Linked DNA regions of Homo sapiens: region 1 is linked to region 2. Evidence: fine-mapped expression QTL. A gene starts in region 2. The other region holds a variant in brackets. All regions are shown on one strand. Distances are between the middles of the regions.

Region 1 (10,190 bases), 21 kb after region 2:
CAGAAATCGCAGATCTGCCATTAGTATTTATTCTTTGAAGATACTTTGGAGATTCATTTTCTTGAGTGGCACTGCCATGCTCATTCAGTGAAAACTTGTGGGGTATAGAAATGGAATGGAGAGTTTCAAACAGCTTTGCTGAAACTGTACTTTGGGCTCCAGACTTCACTGTCCTTAGGCATTGAAACCATCACCTGGTTTGCATTCTTCATGACTGAGGTTAACTTAAAACAAAAATGGTAGGAAAGCTTTCCTATGCTTCGGGTAAGAGACAAATTTGCTTTTGTAGAATTGGTGGCTGAGAAAGGCAGACAGGGCCTGATTAAAGAAGACATTTGTCACCACTAGCCACCAAGTTAAGTTGTGGAACCCAAAGGTGACGGCCATGGAAACGTAGATCATCAGCTCTGCTAAGTAGTTAGGGGAAGAAACATATTCAAACCAGTCTCCAAATGGGATCCTGTGGTTACAGTGAATGACCACTCCTGAAAGGGTAAAAGAAGATCTCATAAGCATTTAAAGGTTTGAAAAGAAAGTTTCACCACTTCACTCGCAAATCATTTACAGAATTTTTTTTTTTTTTTTTGAGGCAAAGTCTTGCTCTGTTGTCCAGGCTGGAGTGCAGTCGTGCAGTCATGGCTCACTGTAGTCTCAACCTTCCAGGCCCAGGCAATCCTCCCATCTCAAACTGCCCAGTGGCTAGTACCACAGGTATGCATCACCATGCCTGGCTCATTTTTTGAATTTTTTGTAGAGACAGGGTCTGCCTATGTTGCCCAGGTTGGTCTCAAACTGCTGGGCTCAAGTGATCCTCCCACCTCAGCCTCCTAAAGTGCTGGGATTACCAGTGTGAGCCAACCTGCCCAGCCCAGAAACTCTTATTTAGAAAAGAGTATCATACATGTGTGTAAACCACCATCCTGTCACACTTCTACTGTCAATTACATATTGAAAAGTTATATGCTTAGGTTAAATTGTCAACTGTCCATAGCACAAGAGAAAAGCCAGTTACTCCAGCAATCCTCCAAGCTAGTAATTAAGAGCTCAGACTACTCCAGAGTCAGACTGCACAAGTTTAAATCCTGGCTCTCCCACTTACTAGCTGTGTAACTTTAGATAAGTTGCTTAACCTCTTTGTGCCTTAGTTTCCTCATCTGTAAAATGAAGACCGGACTGTAGTCATCTCATGTCGGCATTGTGAAGCTATATGTAAAGCACTCAGAACAGGGCCTGGGACAAAATAAGTACTTGATAAATATTAAAACTATTCAGTTTTTTGGCTGGGCGCGGTAGCTTATGCTTGTAATCCTAGCACTTTGGGAGACTGAGGTGGGCGGATCACCTGAGGTCAGGAGTTCAAAACCAGCCTGGCCAACATGGTGAAACCCCAGCTCTACTAAAAATATAAAAATTAGCCAGATGTGGTGGCACACGCCTGTAATCCCAACTACTTGGGAGGCTGAGGCATGAGAATTGCTTGGATCCAGGAAGCGGAGGTTGCAGTGAGCTGAGATGGTGCCACTGCACTCCAGCCTGGGTGACAGAGTGAGACTCTGTCTCAAAAATAAATAAATAAAATAAATAAATAATAGGCCGGGTGTAGTGGTGCACGCCTGTAATCCCAGCACTTTGGGAGGCCGAGGTGGGTGGATCACCTGAGGTCAGGATTTCGAGACCACCCTGGCTAACATGGCAAAACCTTGTCTGTACTAAAAAATACAAAAATTAGCTGGGCATAGTGGTGCGCACCTGTAGTCCCAGCTACTTGAGAGGCTGAGGCGGGAGAATCACTTGAACCCTGGAGGCGGAGGTTGCAGTGAGCCGAGATTGTGCCACTGCACTACAGCTTGGGTAACAGAGCAAGACTCCATCTCAAAAATTAAATAAATAAATAAATAAATAAATAAATAAATAAATAAAACTATTCAATTTTTTTTTTTGAGACAGTCTAGCTCTGTCACCCAAGCTGGAGCGCAGTGGCGTGATCTCAGCTCACTGCAACCTCCGCCTCCCAGGTTCAAGTGATTCTAGTGCCTCAGCCTCCCAAGTAGCTGGGACTACAGGCACCTGCACCACCGCACCCAGCTAAGTTTTGTATTTTTAGAAGAGACGGGGTTTTGCCATGTTGGTCAGGCTGGTCTTGAACTCCTGACCTCAAGTGATCCTCCTACCTTGGCTTCCCAAAGTGCTGGAATTACAGGCGTGAGCCACTGCGCCTGGCCTATTCAATTTTTAATATTTCAAAAAACCTAATGGAAACTATACCTGTGATAAGTCAACACAAGCTAACTTAAAGGTCAAGTTTTTATGCTGTGGCTGGTACTAACTCCATGGTAACACTAGCTCTCACATGCTGATCAGACACAAAACGTAGAATCACAGAATGTCAGGGCTACTTGGGTCTAGAGAGGTCTTTCAATGTAAGGCTCTCATTTTCACAGATGGGAAGATCAAGGCCCAGAGAAGTGTCTTGCCAAAAATCAATATTTGATACAGTCAACTAACTAGGGCAGGAAGGAAAAGCATGCAGGACCATGGAGAACTAACTTCTGAGGGTTAAAATCCATATGCAGAGGCTCTAAAAGAGGTCTCACCTGCTTTATTTTTCCTGAGATTGCCGAGAATAACATGGCACTTATACTGATGGGCAGATGACCAGATGAACATCATCATCCCAAGAATATGGAACCACCGTGCTTGCATCAATAGATTTTTCCCTGTTATGTAGGCTATAGGAATGAGAATTGTTAGCCAACACTAAACAATTTCACAGGCTCAGGGAATTAAACAAATCATTTAGTCAGCAGAAACACAATTATCCACTTATTCCGTTCCTCAATATCCTAATATAATTTCCCAAGTACAAAGAGGGGAACCTGTTCCTCAATATCCCGATGTAATTTCCTGATGTAATTTCCCAATACAGAGGGAAAAGCCCTGTCTCTCTGGACAAAGGAGATACGTTCCTCAGCTATGGGCAGCTTCAGTTCCCCTGGCAAGAGAATTCCACACAGACACATTCTCTTGCTTCTTCTCTAAACAGTTCAAGCACAAAGTTCAGCTCCCCTACTGTGATCTACTTTCGAATGGTAAGATTCCTTTGTGTTTCCCTTGCTAAGTCCAGTTTTAAGTCTTCTTTCTTATGTTTTACAGTGAAGAAAAACACTTTCTAAGGAAATCTCTCTCTGAGCTACCATCCTGCTAGGGAGAGCCTGAAAGCAGAATGCTGACTTGACTAGCTCTGGTCAATGAAAGAAATCACCAGTGGAAAGGCTACCAGGGGGCTTTCTCAAAAGAGAGGGACAGTAAACTGCAAGATGAACAACTCAATGCCATCCAGGTCTGGATGAGAAAGAACAGTCGAGAGACTGAGTTTCAGGAGTGGAAACACTCAAAGCATCATCTTCCACTTTCTTCTCCGGCTGCTAGGAAGAAGGGAAAAACACAGACCTTCTGAGGACCTGCGGAGCAAACCACTGGCTTCAGAAAAGCAAACAGGGACTTCCCTCTGCGCAGCAGGAAGCAGTTAGCCTAGTCGGAGGCTTGACTGAAGAAACAAATGTATCCACTGATAATGGGCAAGAGCCTGAGGCTCTGGAGCCAAGGGGGAACCCTAAAAAGCTGATTCAAGTAAGAGAACCAAGGATCATGCAATTCCACATGGCCACCTCGAAGCAGGAATCCGTTAATGATAGTAAAGGACTGATGAAAATCCACCGGTCTACCTGTGTCAGTTTATTTTAAAAGCTTGTTTTATATAATCAATCTACTATAGTCTTTTAGTGTTTACAAGTTTAGCCATTTAACTACTAGGTTATATTTTTATAAGTTCAAAACAGGCTGGGTACAGTGGCTCACACCTGTAATCCCAGCACTTTGCGGGGGCCAAGGCAGGAGGATCACTTGAGGCCAGGGGTTTGAGACCAGCCTGCCAACATAGCGAGAACCTGTCTCTACAAAAATGAAATAAGCAAAATATTAAAAATACAGTTTTAAATCTGACAGGCTTCAAGAGCAAGTCAACAGGATGAAAAGTTACAGTGTCTGGAAGTTCAAATCACTAAGTCCCTTATGCTAAATGCAGAGAGTTTACCTACAGGAAAAAGGATTTGTTAAGGGTAACGCCAGAATTATAATGCAGGAAAAGGGAGGCAGGTGGAAGGCTCACATTTCCTCAGTTCTACTCAGTATTTAATTATTTGTTTATTCATTAGTTACTTAAGGAGTGCCTCCTAAGCCTGGCCCTGCTGAAGGCACAAAGGATAAAGCAGGGAATAAGTCAGGCAAGATCCCAGTCCTTATAGAGCTTACATCCTAGTTTACAGATAGTCTTCTTTTCACTTTAAGAAGAACCCTGTGAAATCAGTATGTGTCAATAATTACTAATGAAGGCTGTGAGGCTCAGAGAAGCTCAATGAGCCAGATGCAGGCCCATCAAGACTCTGGAGCCCATGTTATTTCTATCACGCCCTTTGGTTGGCAAATGCCCCAATGTGTTTTCTCTCAATGAATTACTGAAACCAACTTTCCCCATATTGTCCTAAATGATCCCAGATGACCCTTGAAGGACAAGGAGGTGAAACAGAAAACAGCTTCAGAAAGGAGTGCTTAGAAAGCTATTTTTGTGGGCTCCTCTTCCTTGACTATCTACGCAGGAGGGAAGGCAGAAGTTGAGACGCAGCCAGTAGAGGAAACTCCGGGAGAGGCAGGTAACGCCAACAAACAAGAACACGCTAAAAGCTAGCAGTCACCAAGCGCTCTGCAAAGTTCCTTTAGGGGGAGAACCAGCACTGCCCACCAGGAATGACAGCCCCTTCCATGGTACTGGCTGGCAGAATGCCACCACAGACATGCCTGGGAGGAATAAGTTCAGAGGAATCAGAGAGATGCTAGCTAAGTGGCTGGAGCCAATCAATAATTCATGAATTGAGAAAGATCGTCAATAAATCCTTTAAAATCACTCCTCTAGTCAGAGGCCTTAGGTTGAGCTACAGCAACAGAGAGACGACTTTCACGGGGCACTCATACCAAAATCTAACCTGAGGAGGAAGCTCACTCACAGATTGTTGGAAATCGCTAGACCTCAGCCTGAGTTTACAAGGATGGACAGGGCAGCTGAAAACATGGAGCCCTGGGTTTAGAGACAATGGTCATTACAGACCTACGGGGTCTAGACTGACAGATACTAAGGCTGCAAGGTCAGGTTAACCTCAGCACTATAAACTCATTCCCATCACCCCAAGCGACTTGAATTCTTTATAATCATGCATTGTTTTTACAAAAATGGTAGTCATATGTGTTAGGTAATGTCCCCTCCTCCCCCCATAAAACAAAAAATCCATTTCATTTCCTTCTCGTAAACAA[G/A]GTCATGGTTTGGCTCCCCTCTTCCTGGCTAGTGAGAGCTTAGAGACTAAAACACAATTTTCACTACCACAGTACTCTTTGTCCTCTCCTCTCAGGCAGCGTCACTTGAAGAAAAGCTCTATTGTGATGGGAACAATCACAGGAACTAAGCGGCAACAAAATGGCTCCCCACCCCCTCTGCAAATCCCAACTCCATGCAAGCACTCTCCCTTCCCTCATTTTCTTTTCTTTTTTTTTGAGATGGAGTCTCGCTCTGTTGCCCAGGCTGGAGTGCAGTAGCGCGATCTCGGCTCACTGCAACCTCCACCTTCTGGTTTCAAGCAATTCTCCTGCCTCAGCCTCCCCAGTAGCTGGGACTACAGGCGTGTGCCACCACGCCTGGCTAATTTTTTTTTTTAATTTTTAGTAGAGACAGAGTTTCACCATGTTGGCCAGGCTGGTCTCGAACTCCTGGCCTCAAGTGATCCACCTGCCTCAGCCTCCCAAAGTGGTGGGATTACAGGTGTAAGCGACCACGCCCGGCCTTTTAAAATCGACTTGAGTCTCATCTCCTGAAATGCAAAATGCATTGGGCCTGTCTCTTACTTCTGCATGTCTCATAATGCTTAGCACAGCACAAGCCCCGAGAGCGCATCATACACCCTGGGGTGGGGAGCTCCTGGCAGGGCTGGATCCACTCACCATTCCTGCCATCCATTGGCACTTGGCTCAGCACAGTTAGGCCAACAAGGACATAATAGACAAGTCCAAAACAGTACTGCACGACGTGAATCATGACATTGGAGAAGACACTGACGTAGAGGCACTCGAAGAGTCTTCGTAAGCTGTGCAGCCACAGAAATACTAGCACTAAGAATGCAGACAGTGCCAGCTCCCCTCCTACAATTCAGAAGGCAACAGGGTCAGCATTTCTCTTCTGGGATTAATCCAAAGTTTTGTTTTTCTGTACTGTTAAGCAAAGTATTAAATCCCATCTAACATCTTTCTTTTTGGTAGTAAGGAAGAAATGGGCCAAATGAAGTCAAGGAATTTGACTTCACTCAAATTACACAGTTCACTGTGTTACACAGTTCACTGGGTTCACAAACACCCATCACTCAATTCTGCTTCATTGTGTGACAGCCTTCCAGGCTTCAGGGACATCACGGTCAGGAGGTCTGTGAAGAGGTCTGTGGGTTTCTGGTCCTGGCACTAACAGCCAGATGCAAACTGGAAGCGTTCCTGGTAGCCTCTGAGTGGCCCCAGCTGTGGGATCCCCAGTATCTCAGGCATCACAGAGGCAGAGAGGGGGACAGGAACAGAAACAGAGTTATGCATTTCTTTCCACATTAAAAAAAAGAAATTATACTTTTAGAGGCATGCTGAGCCCAAGATCTACTTCCTCACCTGTCTTTCACGACCTGCCCACCAAAAAATCTGAAGAAAAGCTGGCTTTAAAAAAACACACACTTAGTTTCTCTTTTTTTCTTTTTTGTTTTTTATTTTTTGGTTAATTTTATGTGTCAACTTCTTTATTTTTGAGACAGGGTCTTGCTCTGTCACCCAGGCTAGAGTGCAGTGGCACAGTCAGGCCTCACTGCAGCTTTGAACTCCTGAGCTCAAGTGATCCTCTGTCTCAGCTTCCTGAGTGGCTAGAACTATAGTCATGTGCCACCACACCTGACTAATTAAAAAAAAATTTTTTTTGTTGCCCAGGCTGGTCTCGAACTCCGGGCCTCAAGCCATCCTCCAGCCTCAGCCTCCCAAAGTGCTGGGATTTTAGGTGTGAGATACCACGCCCAGTCACTTAAAAAAGAAATGAGTCACGGCCGGGGGCGATGGCTCATGCCTGTAATCCTACCACTTTGGGAGTTGGAGGCGGGTGGATTGCCTGAGCTCAGGAGTTCGAGACCAGCCTGGGCAACATGGTGAAACCCTGTCTCTACTAAAAATACAAAAAATTAGCCAGGCATGGTGGTGTGCGCCTGTAGAACCAGCTACTTGGCAGGCTGAGGTAGTAGAACTGCTTGAACCTGGGAGGTGGAGGTTGCAGTGAGCCAAGATTGGGCCACTGCAATCAGCCTGGGAGATAGAGCAAGACTCTGTCTCCATTAAAAAAAAAAAAAAAAAAGTCTCACACACAAACACACACACACGCATGCACACCATAAAGATGCAACTTAATTAACTTTTACAAATTAAGCCAACCAATCCCACCCATGTAACAGCACCCAGATCCAGAAACAGAACACTTTAGGAAGCTGAGGTTGGAGGATCGCTTGAGACCAGGAGTTTGAGACCAGCCTGGGCAACACAGCAGGTACCCCATCTCTAAAAACATTAAAAAAAAAATTAGCTGGGCATAGTGGCGTGCACCTGTAGTCCCAACTACTCAAGAGGTGGAGGAGGGAGGACTGCTCGAGCCCAGGAGTTAAAGGCTGCAGTGAGCTATGATCATGCCACGGCACTCCAGCCTGTACAACAGAGTGAGACCCTCTCTCTTAAAAAAAGAAAAAGAAAGAAAAAAATGAAACAAACAAAAGAAACAGGCTGGATGCGGTGGCTCATGCCTGTAATCCCAGCACTTTGAGAGGCTGAGGCAGGCGGATCACAAGGTCAGGAGTTCAAGACCAGCCTGGCCAACAGAGTGAAACCCTGTCTCTACTAAAAATACAAAAATTAGCCGGGCATGGTGGCGCATGCCTGTAGTCCCAGCTACTCAGGAGGCTGAGGCAGGAGAATCGCTTGAACCCGGGAGGGGTAGGTTGTGGTGAGCTGAGATCAGGCCACTGCACTCCAGCCTGGGCAACAGAGCAAGGCTCCATCTCAAAAAAAAAAAAAAGAAGAAACAGAACACGAACAGCACCCCCTAGTGTAGGCACGACCCCTCCCCCAAACTTCCCATGGGGAACAACCCCTATCAGCACAGATTAGCTTTGACTGTTTTTGTATTTTAAATGAACTAAAACTTAGTTTTAACTCCTTAGGAACAAGTTAAAGCAAACAAATAGAATTCCTCATATCCTCACAACCAACCCTCCAAATACCAAAACACCCCAGTCAGTCTCACAGTAAACAAACGAAGAGATGAAGTTTTAACGAGTGGAGTGAGATCCGCTGATGTAGCCTACCCTTCCAAAGAGGATGTCCACGGGTTTGCTCTTTTTTTTTAGATGGAGTCTCACTCTGTGGCACAGGCTGGAGTGCAGTGGCATGATCTCAGCTTACTGCAACCTTTGCTTCCTGGGTTCAAGCCATTCTCCTGCCTCAGCCTCCTGAGTAAGTGGGATTACAGGCACGCGCCACCACGTCCCGCTAATTTTTTGTATTTTTAGTAGAGACGGGGGTTTCACCATGTTGGCCAGGCTGGTCTTGAACTCCTGACCTCAAGTGATCCACCTGCTTCAGCCTCCCAAAGTGCTGGGGTTATAGGTATGAGTCACTGCCCACTGTTCCCGGCAGGGTTTGCTCTTTTTTTTTTTTTTTTTTTTGAGACGGAGTCTTGCTCTGTCCTCTTAGGCTAGAGTGCAACGTTACAATCTTGGCTCACTGCAACCTCTGCCTCTTGGGTTCAAGCAATTCTCTCTCCTCAGCCTACCGAGTAGCTGGGGTTACAGGCATGTGCCAGCACACCCAGCTAAGTTTTGTATTTTTAGTAAAAACGGGATTTCACCATGTTGGCCAAGGTGGTCTTGAATTCTTGACCTCAAGTGATCTGCTCACCTCAGCCTCCTGAAGTGCTGGGATGAGAGGCATGAACCACCACACCCGGCCGGGGTTTGCTCTTCTGATTGTCATCTTTTGCAACCAGTTTATCTGGTTATACAGAAAAGGATTGTTTCTAGGTGGTTTGGCCACTGGAACAAAGGACAGAGATGAGACTAGAACAATTTGTTTCTAATTCTGCCCCTCACACTCTGCCTGACCTTAATTGAGGACATTTCATAGTTTTCACCTTCAATTCTTTATTTTAAAAACTGTTCTGGCCGGGCGCGGTGGCTCACACCTGTAATCCCAGCGCTTTGGGAGGCCAATGCGGGTGGATCACCTGAGGTCAGGAATTCGAGACCAGCCTGACCAACATGGAGAAACACCATCTCTCTACCAAAAATACAAAATTAGCTGGGCGTGGTGGCACATGGCTGTAATCCCAGCTACTTGGGAGGCTGAGGCAGGAGAATCGCTTGAACCTGGGAGGCAGAGGTTGCAGTGAGCCAAGATTGCACCATTGCACTCCAGCCCGGGCAATAAGAGCGAAACTCCATCTCAGAAAAAAAAAAAAAAACGTTCCATATTCTTCATCCTGATGCTGAGGATGGCAAACTTAAAGGCTATTTTGTAATCGTCTGTTCAACAACTGTTTAGTCAATTTTATTATACTACCAAAGCCTCACAGCATAACTTTTTTTCCATGTTTATCAAAAAGTAATTTTTATTTATTTTATTCATTTATTTATTTATTTTTTTGAGACAAAGTCTCCCTCTGTTGCCCAGGCGTGGAGTGCAGTAGCTCAATCTTAGCTCATGGCAACCTCCGCCTCCCAGGTTCAAGCGATTCTCCTGCCTCAGCCTCCCGAGTAGCTGGGATTACAAGCGCCTGCCACCACACCCAGCTATTTTTGTATTTTTAGTAGAGTTGGGGTTTCACCACATTGGCCAGGCTGGTCTTGAACTCCTGATCTCAAGTGATCTGCCTGCCTTGGCCTCCCAAAGTGCTGGGATTACAGGTATGAATTAAAAAGTAATTTTTTTTTTTTTTGAAACACAGTCTCGCTCTGTTGCCCAGGCTGGAGTGCAGTGGCCCGATCTCAGCTCACTGCAAGCTCCGCCTCTCGGGTTCATGCCAT
Region 2 (10,190 bases):
AGAGTCCATCTGAGCAGGGTAACTGAGCATATTGGGCTCAGCTTCATTGCCTTCTTCCTCTGGGGAGACAGACCCCTAAGGGAAAAACATTATCTGCTGTTCTCTCCAGGGCTTGCCCCTAGCCCAGTGCAGCCTGCAACTCAACAGCTCTTGATTCTGGAGTTCAGTATTAGCCCAGTCCACCTGGCCACCAGACCTAAAACTATTCCTTCCAACCCGGCCTCCTGTCTGTGTCACTCTCTGTTTTCATCCTCAATGTTTCAGAAATAGGGAGAAGTGAGCTATTTCCTGAGCTCTGCTGGAGAACCCTCCTTCCCCATAATCAGCAAAGGGCCGATTAAAGTTTTTTCCTTAAATAGTCCACAGAGCAAAGGTTGGTTAAAGAAGCCAGGGCAGGGAGATATGAGGAAAGAGGAGAAGCAAAAACCAGAAACTTCACGCTAAGAGTCAACTGAAGATCATTCAAATTTAAAGCACTCAGGCTGGGCACGGTGGCTCACACCTGTAATCCCAGCACTTTGGGAGGCCGAGGCAGCTGGATCACCTGAGGTCAGCAGTTTGAGACCAGCCTGACCAATGTGGTGAAACCCTATCTCTACTGAACATACAAAAATTAGCTGGGTGTGGTGCCGTGTGCCTGTGGTCCCTGCTACTTGGGAGGCTGAGGCAGGAGATGGCTTGAACCCGGGAGGTGGAGGTTGCAGTGAACTGAGATCACACCACTGCACTCCAGCCTGGGCAACAGAGCAAGACTCTGTCTCAAAAAAAAAAAAAAAAATTAAAGCACTCAGCAAATGTAAGTGAATGACGAATAGCAATATGCAACTTGCTTGACCTTCTCAACTCTTTAAAGCTCATGAAACGAAGCACACTGCTACCCATCAGCTTGCTAAACCCCTTTAAATGATGGGGATCTGGACCCTTGTATGCGAACTCTGCTGGTGCAGGGGAAAGGGAGGGCAGCTGTTTCCCTACATTCTTGGGCTTTCCTAGGTTTCCACAAGCAGGCTGAAAATTCCAAAAAGAATGCTAAATACATGCTCCAGGTTCATTTATCCAACTCTTTCCTTGCATCACCTTCTGGATGTTTCACAGGCATTTCCAACAGAGCAAGGGCAAAACAGGTCTTTTGATGTCCCTCCAAAAACCTGTTCCTCCTTCAGGCTTTCCATCTTAGTAAATGGAACCAACATCCACCATATTAGATTACTCCATTAGATTCCCCATACCCCACATCCAATCCACCAGCAAATTTTGTCTCTAATTTTAAAATCTATCTGAATCTGTTCACCTCTATCTCCACTGTTACCACCTTGTACAAACCAGGTGTCATTTCTCACCTGGACAATTAAATGGGCTCCTAATTGGTCTCCCTGCCTCTGCCAATCTAGAATCTAACCAGCAGCCAGAATGAGCTTTCAAAATTAAAATAATTTCATTCCACTGCTTAAAAGTAATGACTTCTAAATGGGCAGAGAATAAAGATAAAACAATCTCTGAATGAAAGTTTAATGTGAGCTCGGCTGGGTGCGTTGGCTCACACCTGTAATCCCAGCACTTTGGGAGGCTGAGGCAGGTGGATAACCTGAGCTCAGGAGTTCGAGACCAGCCTGGCCAACATGGCAAAAACCCATCTCTACTAAAAATACAAAAATTAGCTGGGTGTGGTGGCAGGCGCCTGTAATCCCAGTTACTCGGGAGGCTGATGCAGGAGAATCGCTTGAACCCAGGAGGCAGAGGTTGCAGTGAGCCAAGATTACGCCATTGCATTCCAGCCTGGGTGTCAAGAGTGAAACTCTGTCTCAAAACAAAAAAAAAAAAAAGAAAAGAAAGTTTAATGTGAGCTACCCCTGCCTCCCTGTGTGACCTTGTCTCTTGGCTTTCTCCACCTCATGTGCCATGCCCAACCAAGAGCTTATTTCCACCTCAGACTCTTCATACTTCTGGTTTTCTCTTCTGAGAACACTCTTTTTTTTTTTTTTTTTTTTTTTTAGGTCTTATTCTGGTCATTTAGGTTAAAGTTCACTTCCTCAAGAGCAGCCTTCCCAGACCACCCATCTAAAATAGACTCTTCCATTCACCCTTGTCACTCTGTCTCATTGTTGGTTCTTTTTAAGTTTGGGGATTTTTGAAAGTTTTTTCATAGCACTTATCACTATCTGAAATTATCTTTTTTTTTTTTTTTTTTGAGACAGAGTCTTGCTCTGTTGCCCAGGCTGGAGTGCAGTGGTACGATCTCGGCTCACTGCAACCTCTTCCTCCTGGGTTCAAGCGATTCTCCTGCCTCAGCCTCCTGAGTAGCTGGGACTACAGGCATATGCCACCACGCCTGGCTAATTTTTGTATTTTTAATAGAGACAGGGTTTCGCCATGTTGGCCAGGCCAGTCTCAAACTCTTGACCTCAAGTGATCTGCCCATCTTGGCCTCCTGAAGTGCTGGGATAAAGGTGTGAGCCACCACACCTGGCCATCTTGATTATCTAATTGTTTACTTCTTTTTTTGTTTTGTTTTGTTTTTCAAGACAGTCTCACTCTGTAGCCCAGGCTGATTATCTAATTGTTTACTTCTTTTTTTGTTTTGTTTTGTTTTTCAAGACAGAGTCTCACTCTGTAGCCCAGGCTGGAGTGCAGTGTCGTGATCTCCACTCACTGCAACCTCTGCCTCCCAAGTCCCAGTTGAGCAGTTCTCCTCCCTCAGCCTCCCGAGTAGCTGGGATTACAGGCACGCACCACTGTGCCCAGCTAACTTTTGTATTTTTAGTAGAGACGGGGTTTCACCATGTTGGCCAGGCTGGTCTTGAACTCCTGGCCTCAAGTGATCCGCCCACCTCGGCCTCCCAAAGTGCTGGGATTACAGGCATGAGCCACTGTGCCCAGCCTGTTTTTTGTTTTTTGAGACAGGGTCGCATTCTGTCACCCAGGCTGGAGTGCAATGGTGCAATCTCAGCTTACTGCAACCTCTGCCTGCTGGGTTCAAGCAATTCTCATGCCTCAGCCTCCCGAGTAGCTGGGATTACAGGCATGTGCCATCATGCCAGCTCTTTTTTTTTTTTTTTTTTTTTTGTATTTTTAGTAAAGACAGGATTTCACCATACTGGCCAGGCTGGTCTTGAACTCCTGACCTCAAATGATCTGACCTCCTCAGCCTCCTAAAGTGCTGGGATTACAGGTGTGAGCCAGCATGCCCGGCCTTTGTTTACTTCTTATATTTATTATCTGTATTGGCAACTAAAACGTAAGTGTCATCAGGGCCAGAATCTTGTCTAAAGAGTTCCTGGCTGTAGAAGACACTCATACATGAATGAATAATTAGTTTAATGAAATTCTGACAACAAAAAGACAAAGGCAAACCTAGACACAGACATAGTCTGGCTCAAAAATACAGATTTCTGATCTGTCACAGCTTCATCTTTGAAAGTCAGCCTCATTCCATACCCACCCTTTCCTCCCAAAAGGCCTGAAAGTTTTGAAGTGGCTTCTGTGCCTTCTTTGCCCTTGGCCTGCCTCTGAGAGACAGAGTTCATCTGACTTTCCACTCACTTCCTAGTGACCTTGAGTTCATTTACAGCCAAAGACAATAATGGGTGTTTAACTCACCAAGACTCCTTCAACCCAGGGCACTCCACCTCCCCCAATTATTGCCAAGTCTGGTTTAGGTCTGACAGCAACTGAGGCTATACCCTCCATCCCCTCCATCCTCCCCCAGGTTAGGCGAAATCTTCTCTCCATTGTCAAGCAAGGTGTGAATTTTGATGAAGCTACTCAGGGCAGAGAGGTGGTTGGAAATTAGGTGGGAGTGATACTCTTTCATCAAATTAAGGCTCGGGTATTACCAAGAAGTAGGGTCAAAATTACGTCAGCCAGAGAAATATAAATCCATTAGACTAGAGGAGGATCTTTAAAATGAGAAAAAGTTGCAGCCATGGAGTAGAAGACCCTCTGATTCCCTCTTTCCAAGTGTTGATAGTAGAGCTTCACCGCCATGAAAAGTCTGTGGATGCTGAGACCTGTGCTCCCCTTCTCTCTGAGGCAGGCCTACAGAATTGGGCATGAAACAGCAAAGGATGGCCTCTGCTTCCACCACCATCAGAAATGTTATATTTTCACCAGTGCACCATAATGTAGCAGTCTCTCCATAATGTAGCAGGTGAGGTATCACCTGGAGTTCTTCGTCTCATGACCAAGAAAATTAAGGAGCGTGGATGCAAAGGATGAAGTTGCAGCGAAAGTTTAATAAGCAAAAGAAGAAAGCTCTCCACAGTGGAGAGGGGACCTGGAGGAGGGTTGCTGCTTTTACAGGTGACTGCAAAGGCTTTTATAAGAACCGGTGAGGGCTGGGCATCTCATTTGCATAAGGCATGAATTTCTGGTAGCTCCACCTCATCCTTCTAGTGTGCATGTGGGCCCTTAGCTTAAGTTTTATTCCATATTGCTTTTTTCCCCTTACTGCGCATGTGTCAGGGGATGGAATTTTCCACTGCAGAAGTATCTGGGCAAGTCATCTGGGTAGGCTTTCATATCTGTGTGGCTGTGGGAATGTCTTAGTCAAGGCCACCTGTGCAGATCCCCTTATCTGTGCCTGCAGCTTGATTTTTCAGGCTGTTCTTTTGTTTGAAAGAATTTAACCAAGGACCCACCCTAACTGATGCCTGAAAGGTTTCTTCCTTTCTCCTCTCTCAGTATCTTCCCTTGTGGACTACACCAGTGTCGAAATGTTCTTGCTAAAAATGATGCAGGGAGAAAGACAAAGTTACAAAGTTGGCATCCACAATTTTTCCATCTTGCCCCACTTCCCAATTAAAATGAAGGAAAAAAAATTGGTGAGGTCTCCATCCCTGTCTGAAGCAGGCATCCATTATCCTGCCCAGGTCAGTTGCTGCAATGGGAAGCATGACTTCATGTTTTGTCAGATGTACCAAATTTTCAAGAGAAAAGCCAGAGAGCTGAATATTTGTGTGAAATTTCCTGATTTTTAAAAGTTGGCAATTGTATCAAATTAGGATTATACTCCACTAAATATAACATAAAATCGAAAAGAACATGCAGCATAAATGAGAGAAATGTTTTCCTTCATTAGAGGCAGTTCAGTGGCTCCACAGAGATCAGGGACCCAGGTTCCTTCCAGCTTTCTGCTCTATCATTCCTAGGGGGTGACCTTTATCTTCATGGCCCAGTGTGACTGCAAGAGCTCTAGCATCCAAGTTCCCAGCAGAAGGATGGAGGACTGGCTGGAAAAACAAGGAGACACAGGGTATGCATCAGGTATGTTTCAAGGGAGCTGCCACAAACCACATCTGCTTACATCTTATTGGCTAGAACTTAGCTGCATGGTGACAGCTAATTGCAAGGGAAGCTGGGAAATGTAGTCTCTATTTCAGAGGCACTTACTATAGGGAATAAAGGGAGAAAGGCTCTTGGGGTCAGCAATTAATAGTCTGTGTCATAGTAACTATATCAGTCAGGGTTCTCCAGAGAAACAGAACCAGTAGGAGGCATACAACAAGTCTGAAATCTTAGAAAACACCAGCAGGCTGGAAACTCAAGCCAGATTTTTATGTTACAATCCTGGGGCAGAAGTCCTTCTCCAGGAAATCTCCGATTTTGCTCTTAAGGCTTTTAACTAATTAGATGAGGCCTACCCACATTATTGAAAGTAGACTCCTTTACTTAAAGTCAACTGGTTGTAGATATTAACTATATCTGCAAAATATCTTCACAGCCACATTGTTATTAGTGTTGTAACAAAAAACTGAGCCCCGTAGCCTAACCAAGTTGACACATATAATTAACCATTACACTAATTCACAATTTTAAAAACTGTGCATACAAAACAGTAGCTGTCTATGAGCACGGTATGACCTGCAGCCTGCCAGTTTGCAATCCTTTCTTTGCATGTCGGAGCAAGGGGCTTGGCCCTTTATAGACCTACGATGTAATAATACCCTAACCACATACCCACCATACGACTGGAATCACACATACACTGCCACAAGAGGTCTGCAGTGAAGGTCCCAAAGTCCCAGACAGTATGTAGAGAAATAGTCCTGTTTTTTGTTTGTTTTGCTTTTACCACTGTGGAATGCTATCTGATAACACACTTTTCTCACTCCTTTCTGACTCATAAAATTATTTTCACTGTAAAACCCAAACCTCAGTTGCTAGGTAGTGCCCCCACAGGAGGGGGCAGTGAGGGGAGAAGGCAGGGAGCTGGGGCTAAGAAAAAGCCTAGGGCTTTGTCAGCCTATAATCACCAACCATTCCACTCACCCAGTACCACTCAGACAGAGGAATGAGACTCTTCTATGCTCGCCCCAGACAGTTCTTATCTGGTGTTCCTCTTTCAAAGTTGTCATGCTGTAAAGTTGTGTTTTCACTGATTTGTAAGAGCGGTTTATATATTGTGAATATTTATTTTTTCTTTCTTACATGTATTGCAATTGGTTTTTCTAATTTTTAAAACATTGTTTATGATGTCTTACACTGTAATTCTGTACAGGCTTACAGCTTTTCTGAGTCTATTTGAATAATATAAGTACTAGAAATGTGGCTAAAATGGGCCCATTAAAAGCATTGGGCCAGGCACAGTGGCTCATGCCTGCAATCCCGGCACTTTGGGAGGCTGAGGTGGGCAGATTGCTTGAGCTCAGGAATTTGAGATCAGCCTGGGCAACATGGTGAAATTCCATCTCCACAAAATATTAAAAAAAAAATAGCTGAGTATGGTGGCATGTGCCTGTAGTCTCTGCTACTCGGGAGGCTGAGGCAGGAAGATCACCTAAGCCCAGGAGATAGAGGCTGCAGCGAGGTATAATTGCACCACTGCCCTCCAGCCTAGGTGACAGAGTGAAGAAAAAATAAAAATAAAAAGAAGGAGGAAAAAAAAGCATTGACACACTTTCATGCAGGCTGGAGGGCAGTGGCGTGATCACAGCTCACTCCCAGGGTCAAGTGATCCTCCTGCCTCAGCCTCCCGAGTAGCTGAGACTACACACGTGCACCACCATGCCCCGCTAATTTTTAAATTCCTTGTAGAGACACAGTCTCACCCTATTGCCCAGGCTGGTGTTGAACTCCTGGGTTCAAGTGATCTTCCTGCCTTCACCTCCCAAAGTGTTAGGATTACGGGTGTGAGCCACTTTGCCCAGCCGGCACACAAATTATATCACCTAGAAATCGATAATTTCACTAAAAGCCAGGAGATGAACTAAAATTATTTAGGGTAAATATGTGTCTTATGTTTCTTAATTCAGCAACAAATTAGTTTTATGCAACAATCATCATATGAAAATAAAAACAATTATAATTCAGTGGATCTTTTTTCACTTTATGGGAAGCAGATTTGGTTTATCTGGCTTCAGTGCTTTTCCCTGCTGTTTATTTTTCACAAGTAAGTCATCTTTATTGTCATTTTGTTTTTACTGCAAAGTTCATTGGAGTCATCATTTTTGAAGAAACCAAAAATAGATGAGGTGGGCCCATATTGTGGTGGCCATTTCTCTGATCTTTAGAAAAATAGTTCTCCATATTTGAAAACAAAGAATGCTCATAGAAGGACAATCTAACAGGCTTGCTATTTATAAGATACCTGAATTTGACTCCCATTTGAATGGATGTTTATCCCTGTCAAACTTATGCTCTGGACAGCAAAACACATAATTTTTAAATTGTTATTATTATTTTTGAAACAGAGTCCCCTCTTGTTGCCCAGGCTGGAGTGCAGCAGCATGATTACAGCTCACATCAGCCTCGACCTCCCGGGCTCAAGCTATCCTCCTACCTCAGCCTCCCAAGTAGCTGGGACTATAGGTACGTGCCACCATACCCAGCTAATTTTTTTCTGTTTTTTGTAGAGATGAGGGTCTCACTACATTGCCAAGGCTGGTCTTGAACTCCTGGATTCAAGCAATCCTCCTGCCTTGGCCTCCCCACATGCTGGGATTACAGCCATGAGCCACTGTGTCCAGCCAAAACTCCTAATTTTAATGAGAATGGCATCAATTGAAGGCATTGTCCCCAATTGCTTTGTGACATCAGTCCTGGATTAAATGCAAACAGATTTTTCCTTATGACAAATTCTGCACTATAGCCCACAGTATTATTTACTCTTTTTTTCTTTCTTTCTTTTTTTTTTTTTGAGACGGAGTCTCTCTCTGTCGCCCAGGGTAGAGTGCAGTGGTGCAATCCTGGCTCACTGCAACCTCTGCCTCCCAGGTTCAAGTGATTCTCCTGCCTCAGCTTCCCAAGTAGCTGGGACTACAGGCGTGTGCCACCACGACCAGGTAATTTTTGTATTTTTAGTAGAGACAGGGTTTCATCATATTGGTCAGGCTGGTCTTGAACTCCTGACCTCGTGATCCTCCTGCCTTGGCCTCCCAAAGTGCTGGGATTACAGGTGTGAGCCACTGCGCCTGGCTATATTTCTTTACTCTTAACATAGATTAAATGCCTATTACCTGATAGATTTTATATGGCACACATTAAGAACATGCATTTTCTTGCATTTCTTGCTCTTTTTCTACTCTCCTTAAGCATTCATAGGCAAGCATTGTCTACTATGATGGCTTATAACAAAAATCTGTAACACTCTTACTTGTGGTCATTGCTGGCTATGTAATTCGCTGAGCCTGGTGCCAAACGAAAATATGGGACCTCCTCTGTAAAAAACAGGAAAAAAGTACAGTTAAAGATACTAATGTAATGGGATAATAGTGATACTGGAGTAACTACATGAACTTAAACATTGCTAAACTAATAATTGTGATGTCATAATTTTATATAATACAGTAAACAATAATCATTCATTAATGTGATGTCCTATTATATTTTTCTGGCTCACTTTTCTGCAAATTCATCAAAATTTATTCTTTTCATTTCACTTTCATTTTCAATAGATATGAAATTTATGTCATACAATTTCTTTACCAATAGATAAGACTGAAAGCAACACCAGCCAGTCTTGGGAAATATAAAGTCACAAATAAATTTTGATAATTTTTCATTTCGTAAAGGATCTTTCTGCTGATGCAGCTGTTAAGAGTGTTTCATAAACTGTGACAACACTAAGGTAAATTTCTGATAAATTATTTTGAAATATAAATTTTAATACTTCTAGAGTTGTTGGTTCTTGTGGAATAATTTTTCTAAAGGGACTTAACTCCTTAGACAACTCAGTTTTCTGTAAAAGTCTGAATTTAATTTTAAGTATAAATTTACACAATGATATTTTAATGTTTCTGCAGACATAAGGAAATATTTCCTGAAACTTGTGGAGGTCTTACAAGAAACTGAAAGTGGCTTCATAATTTGTATATAATTCATAAGGCCTGTTTATGTATTCTGTCACTGACTCTTCAATTATAAGAAAAAAAACATGTTTAATTATCTTTCTGCCAAACAATTGGTTTGTACTTCCTAGGAAAATAGCATTCTTTTCTGTAGAATGTGACAATCTTTAAACTTAATTTCTGTTTCTAAGCCTGAGGTTATTTGCTTTGCCATGTTGTAGTAGTTTTCAAAACTAGACATTTTAGATCCTTTAAGAATTCTAATAACCCCCTGCTATGCTATGACAATATTCATGTATACACTTTTATTGTATACATGTTGTACTAATTTACTGAGAAGTTAGCAGAATGAGTTCCTGTCCCAGTACTCAGGATGGAGAGTTACTATTTGTGCAGATGATGCGGGGCTAAGCTCTGGCAAGGGACAGGCGAGCTGGTCTCCCACTGGTGGTCCTGGCAATGTCCATATGCAGAGCCCTTTCCTGTCTTTGGAGCCGCAGCCATTGCTGTCCTGACTGTTACTCCTGCTGCCCGCCACCATCACCACTGCAACTGGGCCCAGGTACTGGCTCAGCTGCACTCTGGACTGCCCTGAATCATGCACACATGCATGCGTTCCCCGCTGGGGTGTTTCCACTGCTCATGTGCATGCTTCATTGTCTCACTGGCTTCACTTACCAAACACAAATTCGAAGATAAAATCACTAAGAATTCCAAGACAGCAACAGCAGAGGATTAAACCAAGCATGTGCCCCTTCTGAGAGTGCAACTGCACAGCATATGGTCCTATAGATAGTCTATTAGGTGTCAGGATTTGGGCTTTGTGTAGAAGAGAGGATAAGGTGGTGAGGAAATGATGGGCACTGACAGATTTCCTCCATGATCTTAACTTAAAGCAATAGGTTG

The links. PIP is the estimated chance that this variant, and not a neighbour inherited with it, causes the effect.
Region 1: its variant is fine-mapped to the expression of SRD5A3-AS1 in tibial nerve (GTEx, PIP above 0.99).

What each region holds. Positions count from the first base shown.
Region 1 is chr4:55,360,127-55,370,316 of GRCh38, reverse strand. SRD5A3 (steroid 5 alpha-reductase 3) reads right to left here. Exons shown (of 5, transcript NM_024592.5): 3 at 6,046-6,243; 4 at 2,595-2,729; 5 at 1-485. The coding sequence ends at 226. SRD5A3-AS1 (SRD5A3 antisense RNA 1) reads left to right here. Exons shown (of 4, transcript NR_037969.1): 4 at 3,154-3,716. Among named protein-coding and RNA genes, the nearest start is that of LINC02928, 13 kb to the left of the region's middle. RefSeq lists enhancers at 4,365-5,052, 5,053-5,741. The variant G/A (reference allele first, on the strand shown) is at 5,365.
Region 2 is chr4:55,381,381-55,391,570 of GRCh38, reverse strand. SRD5A3-AS1 (SRD5A3 antisense RNA 1) reads left to right here and starts at 5,991. Exons shown (of 4, transcript NR_037969.1): 1 at 5,991-6,026. It overlaps LINC02928 (long intergenic non-protein coding RNA 2928), which reads right to left. Exons shown (of 3, transcript XR_941060.4): 2 at 8,591-8,654; 3 at 3,299-5,228.